2 separate regions of the Homo sapiens genome follow, and region 2 is linked to region 1. A link means that fine-mapping ties the variant in region 1 to the expression of a gene that starts in the linked region. Tissue or cell type: whole blood. Region 1 holds a variant in brackets; the other region holds the start of a gene. All regions are shown on one strand. Distances are from middle to middle.

Region 1 (4,000 bases):
TTCATCTTTAGGGTCACAACTATAGTAGCTTCTTATTCCATCCAATATGTATTTAAGCATCTTTGGTTCTGAAGTTGGGCAAGGGTTTGTATAGATTGGTATAAACATTTTAAGGATAACAGAAACTACAATAAAGTTTTTTGTTTTTTGTTTTTTTTTACTCTAAAATAACCTTGAAGTAATTTTTAGTAAACTAGTTGAGACCGGGTGCAGTAGCTCGTACCTGTAATCCCAGGATGTTGGGAGGCCAAGGCAGGCTGATCACCTGAGGTCAGGAGTTCAAGACCAGCCTGACCAACATGGAGAAACCCTGTCTCTACTAAAAACACAAAATTAGCCAGGCATGGTGGCGGGCACCTATAATCCCAGCTACTTGGGAGGCTGAGGCAGGACAATTGCTTGAACCTGGGAGGCAGAGGTTGCAGTGAGCTGAGATCGCGCCACTGCACTCCAGCCTGGGTGACAGAGTGAGACTTGGTCTCAAAAAAAAAAAAAAAAAAAAAGTTGATATAATTTAGACTTCAGGACACTTTCAAATTTAAACTGTAGGAATAGCTTTTCTTAGTAAAGCTCTTAATAGGATGAAAGATGCTCTCTGAGATAAATATAAGGAGATTCTTTGTTAACCTCCATAATATCCGGGATGTTATTTAAAGTCAAAATTTTACTGTAACTCCTTAACAGCCAGTTTTCATTGTAAGTGTATAATTATATCTTGTGGAAAAATCATAGATTTTGTGTGTGTGTATTTTTATTTATACATGACTCATTCATATTCGTGATTATATTTATTTAGTTCTCTAATATTCACAGTTTAATTTAGTTGGCCTGTGTTTTTTTCTCCTCTAAGGAAATAAGAAAACTTGTCCTGTTAGCTTTTGGATTATTAAATCTTTCCTCCTTCTTTTCTTGAAAATTTCAAGTTGTCAGCCATTTTCTTGAATTTGTCATGCTTTTTACAGTTATCAAAATCTGAAGGTAGTCATAAAAAATAGAAGTAGAGACTAGCTCCTTAAAATCTTAAGTAGTATATGTGCATAAGAAGTATTATTAGGAAGTATATCCATGTTATAAATCTAAACAAATAAGAAGTATATCCATGTTATAAATCCTTCCTGGTCCCCTTTTATGGCTAAAATGGTTGTTACCTAATTTTGTTTGTGCTTTTAAACTGGTAGGACACCTGTGGAAAACTGTCCTCTTCTCTCCTAGGCCACAGACCTCCACCAGCACGAAGTGGACATCGTTGTGTGGCAGATAATACCAACCTATATGTGTTTGGAGGTTATAACCCAGATTATGATGAATCGGGAGGGCCTGATAATGAAGACTATCCTCTCTTCAGGGAACTCTGGAGGTATCATTTTGCTACAGGAGTATGGCACCAGATGGGCACAGATGGCTACATGCCCCGGGAATTGGCATCTATGTCACGTGAGTGCAAGCAGTTCGTAACTCCTGACTTTATGAAATGTCTGAGAAGCCAGGTTCAATGTCCCATATTCCTCATTAATAATTTATAACACTATAATGTGATTTCGCCCTGTGGGTGGATAGGCTTTTTACTAGGGTAATAACAGTATGGTGATTCCAAATTATTTGGGTCCTGAGTTTGAATTCAGCTTGTCAGGTGAGTTTTAGCTTTAATTTCCTAACTTGCAAAATGGGATTAATAATATCTTAGAGGGTTCAATATAAAGTATCACGCAGTAGAAGGTCAACAAATGGGGCTTATGACGATGACAGTTAATAGCTGTTGAGCAAAGTACAGGCATACCTCAGAGATGTCCTGGGTTTAGTTTCAAACCACCAAAATAAAGCAAGTCACACAACATTTTTGGTTTCCTAGTGCATATAAAGTTATGTTTACGCTATGCACTAGTCTCTTTCATGTGCAATAGCATTATCTCTAAAAAACTACATACCTTAATTAAAAATACTTTATTGCTAAAAAGTGCTAACAACCATCTGAGCCTTCAGCGAGTTGTAATCTTTTTTGCTGGTGGAGGGTTTTGTCTTGATGTTGGTGGCAGCTGACTTATCAGGGTGGTGGTTGCTGAAGGTTGGGGTGATTGTGGCAATTTCTTAAGACAGCATTGAAGTTTGCTGCATCAATTGGCTCTTCCTTTCACAAAAGATTTCTCTGTAGCATTTAATGCTGTTTGATAGCATTTTACCCAGAGTAGAGCTTCTTTCAAAATTGGAGTCAAGTCCTCTCAAACCCTGCCACTGCTTAATCAACTAAGTTTAAGTGATATTCTAAATCCTTTCTTGTCATTTCAACAGTGTTCACAGCATCTTCACTAGGAGT[A/G]GATTCTATCTCAAGAAACCACTTTCACTGAGCACAGTGACTCATGCCTGTAATCCCAGCACTTTGGGAGGCCGAGGCAGGAGGATCGCTGGAGCCCAGGAGTTGAAGACCAGCTTGGGCAACATAGTGAGACCTTTTCTCTACAAAAAATAAAAAAATTAACCAGGCATGGTGTTGCACGACTGTATTCCCAGCTACTTGGGAGGCTGAGGTGGGAGAATGGCTGGAGCCCAGGAGGTTGAGGCTGCAGAAGCTGTGATCATGCCACTGCATTCCAGCCTGGGTGACAGAGTAAGACCCTGTCTCAAAAAAAAAAAAAAAAAAAAAAAAAGAAAAAGAGGCCGGGCATGGTGGCTCACACCTGTAATCCCAGCACTTTGGGAGGCTGAGGCGGGCGGATCATGAGGTCAGGAGTTTGAGACCCAGCCTGGCCAACATGGTGAAACCCTGTCTCTACAAAAAACACACACACAAAAAAAATTAGCTGGGCATGGTGGCAGGCGCCAGTAATCCCAGCTACTCAGGAGGCTGAGGCAGGAGAATCCCTTGAACCTGGGAAGGTGGGGGTTGCAATAAGCCAAGATCGCCCCACTGCACTCCAGCCTGGGCAATAAGAGTGAGACTCCGTTTCAAAAAAAATAAAAATAAAAAAAATTAAAAATCTGTTGTTTAGTGTAGCCACTTAGCTAGATCTTCTGGATAACTTGCTGTAGCTTCTGCATCAGCACTTGCTGCTTCACTTTGTACTTTTATGTTATGGAGATGGCTTCTTTCCTGAAACCTCTTGAACCAACCTCTGCTAGCTTCCAACATTTCTTCTGCAGCTTCCTTACCTCTCCCCACCTTTATAGAATCGAAGAGAGTCAGGGCCTTGCTCTGAATTAGGCTTTGGCCTAAAGGGAATGTTGTAGTTGATCTTCTGTCCAGACCACTTAAACTTTCTGCATATCAGCAATAAGGCTGTTTTGCTTCCTTATCATTCGTGTGTTCACTGGAGTAGTACTTTTAATTTCCATCAAGAACTTTTCCTTTGCATTCACAATTCGGCTAACTGTTGAAAGAGGCCTAGCTTTCGCCTGCCTTTGCTTTCCACATGCCTTCCTCACTAAGCTTAGTCAATTCTAGCTTTTGATTTAAAGTTAGATACGGTAGACTCTTCCTTTCACTTCAATACTCAGAGGCCATTGTAAGGTTATTCACTGGCCTAATTTCAATCTTGTTGTGTCTCAGGGAATAGGGAGGCCTGAGGAGAGGGAAAAAGATGAGGGAATGGCTGATTGGTGCAGTCAAAACTCTCACAGCATTTATTAAGTTCACTGTTTTATATGGGCGTGGTTCATGGCACCTCAAAACAGTTACAATAGTAACATCAAAGATCGCTGATCAGTGCTGGCGTGGTGGCTCAGGCCTGTAATCCCAGCAATTTAGGAGGCCAAGGAGGGAGGATCACTTGAGGTCAGGAGTTCGAGACCAGCCTGGGCAATGTAGCAAGACCCTGTCTCTTAAAAAAAAAAAATTAGCTGGGCATAGTGGCCTGTACATATAGTCCCAGCTACCTGGACATCTGAGGTGGGAGGATCACTTAAGCCCAGGAGTTCAAGGCTGCAGTGAGCCATGTTCATGCCACTGCACTCCAGCTAGGCAAGACAGCAAGACTCCAACTCAAAAAAAAAAAAATAAATAAAGGCT
Region 2 (4,526 bases), 47 kb before region 1:
GGAACCCACTCCTGAGATAACTAACCCATTCCCGCCATAACAGCATTAATCCATTCATGAGGGCAGAACCTTCAGGTACTAATCATTCTTAAAGGTTCCACTTCTCCAGATTGTTGCATTGGGGATTAAGTTTCCAACACATGAACTGTGGGGGACACATTCGAATCATAGCAGTTACCCATATAGCTACTGAGCCAAATCTTGGGACTACTAAAACTTTTTATGTTATGTTATGTTATTTTATTTTATTTTATTTTTATTTATTTATTTTTTTTGAGACGAGTCTCGCTCTGTTGCCCAGGCCGGAGTGCCGCGGCGCTATCTTGGCTCACTGCAACCTCCGCCTTCCAGGTTCAAGCGATTCCCCTGCCTCAGCCTCCAGAGTAGCTGGGATTGCAGGCGCGGGCCGCCACGCCAGACTAATTTTTTTTTTTTAAATATTTTTAGTAGAGACGGGGTTTCACCGTGTTAGCCAGGATGGTCTCCCTCTCCTGACCTCGTGATCCGCCCCCCTCGGCCTCCCAAAGTGCTGGGATTACAGGCGTAAGCCCCCGCACCCGGCCATTGTATGTATGTATGTATGTATGTATGTATGTATGTATGTATGTATGTATGTATTTTTGAGACGGAGTCTTGCTTTGTCGCCCAGGCTGGAGTGAAAATGGCACGATCTCGGCTTACTGCAACCTCTGCCTCCCGGGTTCAAGCAATTCTCGTGCCTCAGCCTCCCGAGTAGCTGGGATTACAGGCACCCACCACCACGCCTGGCTAATTTTTTTGAATTTTTCGTAGAGACCGGGTTTCACCATGTTGGCCAGGCGGTCTTGAACCCCTGACCTCAGGTGATCCACCCACCTCGGCCTCCCAAAGGGTTGGGATTACAGAAAGTGTTAGGATTACAGACATGAGCCATCGCGCCCAACCAAAACTTTATATGTTATTTTCTTATTTCATCTCTCCCAGTTGATTAATTAAAAAGTGTTACTTAAGAATCTACTTTGGCTGGGCGTGGTGCTCATGCCTATAACCCAATGCTTTAGAAGGCCAAGGCAGGAGGATGGCTTGAGGCCAGGAGTTCTAGACTAGCCGGAGCAACAAGGCAAAACCACCCCCTCATCCCCACACACTGCCCTATCTCTACAAATTTGCTTTGCAAATTGGGAAAACAGCATTTCATAGGATTTCTGTGAGGATTAGACAGGTTAAACATGTAAAATGTGTAAGACTGCATTTTGCCTATATACATAAAAAACTGGCCAGACGCAGCAGCTCACACCTGTAATCCCATCACTTTGGGAGGCCAAGGCAGGTGGATTACCTGAGATGGGGAGTTGGAGACCAGCCTGACCAACATGGTGAAAACCCATCTCTACTAAAAATATAATTAGCAGAGCGTGGTGGCACATGCCTGTAATCCCAGCTACTTGGGAGGCTGAGGCAGGAGAATTGTTTGAACCTGGGAGGCAGAGGTTGCAGTGAACCGAGATCATGCCTCTGCACTCCAGTCTCGGCGACAGAGTAAGACTCCGTCTCAAAAAAAAAAAAAAACAGTTAACATATATTAATTTTGGTTTTTATATTTTAGAACCATAGGCTTTTTTTTTTTTCAAGTCTCAAACATTTTCATAAGCAGCGTGCTATGGTGCTAGTGACTAAAACATTTCTGCCTACAGGGACTGGAAGTAGGAAAACAAGGAGGCAGTGCCAGTGGCGACCAGAAATTTGCACACCAGGTACAAAGGGTATTTGTCCTCAGCTCCAGCAGAGTTTCTTTTTTTTCTCTGCAACCATGTAAGGTTCTTCTAATGCAAAAGAAAAAAAAATCTGTCACATCTAAGGACCTTGAAAAGTTTTGTTTCCCTTGAGGAATTTGATATGCTTTTTCCTTATCATTCAGAAACATCAGTGTATAGTATGTTTTCCCAGTCTGCATTGCGCCCAGTAAGTTTCAAGCCAAAATTTCTGTTTAATTTTGGAACAATAGAAACTCCTGATCGGCACATTAAAAATTTTCTTTGATCTTGATCTTCCATACCCGTTGCTGCCTTTTATTTAATTTTACATTTCCTCTTGATTATATATCTTCCAAGCTGATTAAAATTTTCTACTAGCCAAAAGGAGTTTGAGCGAACAAAAATATTTACAGAGCCATCAGCCATCTATGAGAATACCTTTTTCTTGGCATTCCACACACTGCCAGGTGTTATTTGAAAAGTCTTTACTGATGTAATAAACCAGAAATGGTTTCTCATTGGGGTTTTATTTTGTATTTCTAAGATTACAGGTGAGAGTGAACATTTTCCCATATTTGTTAACCAGGTTTAAAACTGTTTGATTGGGACGTGGCTTATACAGGGACAAATGCAGCTAAGCCGACTGAAAGACAAATGAAACCCAGGAATATCTGGTTCTTACATTTTAGCTTTGACTCCGCCCCTGGGTCCCCTCACCTACCCGGACCCCAAGCAAGCCCTTTGTGTGTGTCAACCATCAGTGAATGGGATCTCAATCTGAAAAGCTGGCAGAATACCGTCTTGCCCCCAAATATGTGTATTATGCGTATATCCAGTGTCTGATTGCAATGTTTATGGGAAAAAGTTCCTGAATCCTAACCAAGACTGAGGCACTGGCCGTCCCCGGGAGTCTTTCCGCAGGCGCGGCCTCTGACACTCGGTCTTCGATTGGCCCGCCTGGCCCCGCAGGAGTCGGGGTGACGCCGGCCAGCCCAGAGCGGACGATGAGAGCTAGGAGTGGCTGCTTCTGCCTTTCTCTCCCCCTACTTTTTTTTTTTTAGCCATAGCTATGGTTACCACGTTTCTCTCCGCCTCCCGCCACCTACCAAGAAAACGACTGACCATTGGCTGCCTTTCACCAAGGCGGTAAGTCATTGGTCTCTGGTGGGACCGGGCGCTGCCCCCTTCCCCTGTCTCCTGGGTCTCTGGAGGAGCCCAGGAAGGAGGCTCCGCTGGTTCCGCTGGGTCAGGCGCTGACGGGACCGGGCTGCGGCAATCGTTAGCGGGTCATGTCGGCCGCCCAGGGCTGGGACAGGAACCGCCGGAGGGGAGGAGGCGCCGCCGGCGCTGGTGGCGGAGGTAGCGGGGCCGGCGGGGGCAGTGGGGGCAGCGGGGGTCGGGGGACTGGCCAGCTCAACCGCTTCGTGCAACTCTCCGGGCGGCCGCACCTGCCAGGTGAGTCGTGGGACAGGGTCCTGACCGCTTGCGGGCGGGAAGGTGACTGCTACCTTTTCTTTTTCTCCCTGGCTTGCTTTTCCTTGGGAGGAGGAAAGGCAGGCCCCACGCATAGCAGAGGGACTGGGGATCAGAGAAAAGGGAAGGTGTCTTTGAGGTCAGGGAGGGAACAGGAGCACAGCGAAGAAAAGTATCTGTGCTCTGTTGAAAGCTCTGTGCTGAGAGTTGTGTTTTCTTTTCAAAGGAGAGGCCACTGTCTCATTGACATTTCCAAATGTTTCGGTTACTCGATTCCCAATCTCTTCCCCTTCCGCAGTTTGATCTTGTAAATGAAAGACATTGGCGCCTAGCTGTGGGAAATTATTTCAAAAAGGGTGCCAAGTTAAGGAGAGAAGAAGGAAACGCATTCCAAGGAGTGATTTTGTAAAAACTACACGGGGCGTGTGTGTAAGAGGCATTCTGAAACGGAAGAAAGGGGTGGGGGAGTGTTGGCTGGGGAGTGTATGGGAAAGAGAACCTAGAGGATTAGGGAAAACTAGTTGGATTATTAATATTTTGGAATGTTCAGAGACAGGATAATGGTGTCTAGGTTTTAAGGGGAGAAAGTGAAGATCAAAAATATACTTAGTGACACAATTATGCTGTGTTTACAATATAAAAACAACTGAGAATTGGAAAAATGTACCCAATACAATTATTTGACATTTTGGTCTACAGTGCCCTAGCCTTGAGTTCAGATGCTTTTGAAAACAAAATAAAATCAAGTGGATATGTATGTGTAGACAATTTTAAAGAGGTATGTTTGTAATTGAATATTCAATCTAGTAGAAGGAAGGTAGGGAATTAAATAATGCAGAGAACGTCAAATATCCCACTGGGCAAGCTTATTTTTACTATGAAAAGAACTATCAGGAATGATGTGTTAATTATTCATCGTGTTTTTTGTGAATAATATTGATTATATTAGTGATATATTTGTTTAGCTGATGAGTTTTGAGAACATGATGAATTGGTTTTTATGAATTGTGCTTAAGACTGTACCTTATACTTCTAGTCAAAAATTATTATTTGATTAAATTGAAGATGACAAAGGGAATTTAGCACATTTAATGAGACAATTGCTTATGTTCGTGATGAGGTTGTTGATGTGTGCTAGAAATGTACATTACCCCATTTATATGCATTAAATCGAGGCATTTGTAAGTAGTCATATAATATACCAGAAGTTGGGTTTGAGACGTTAATATCAGACTGGGCATCCTAGAATTGCTAAATATACGATCTTTAACATGAAAAAGAAAAAAGGAGCAATCTTTTTTCTTACTCCCAATTAATAAT

The links. PIP is the estimated chance that this variant, and not a neighbour inherited with it, causes the effect.
Region 2: KLHDC10 starts here. The variant in region 1 is fine-mapped to the expression of KLHDC10 in whole blood (TOPMed, PIP above 0.99). The same link has a PIP of 0.9 or more in fibroblasts.

What each region holds. Positions count from the first base shown.
Region 1 is chr7:130,115,233-130,119,232 of GRCh38, forward strand. It overlaps KLHDC10 (kelch domain containing 10), which reads left to right. Exons shown (of 10, transcript NM_014997.4): 3 at 1,213-1,434. Among named protein-coding and RNA genes, the nearest start is that of LINC03008, 24 kb to the right of the region's middle. The variant A/G (reference allele first, on the strand shown) is at 2,312.
Region 2 is chr7:130,067,622-130,072,147 of GRCh38, forward strand. It overlaps KLHDC10 (kelch domain containing 10), which reads left to right and starts at 2,913. Exons shown (of 10, transcript NM_014997.4): 1 at 2,913-3,188. The coding sequence starts at 3,023. RefSeq lists enhancers at 2,428-2,627, 2,658-2,847 and a silencer at 2,948-3,117.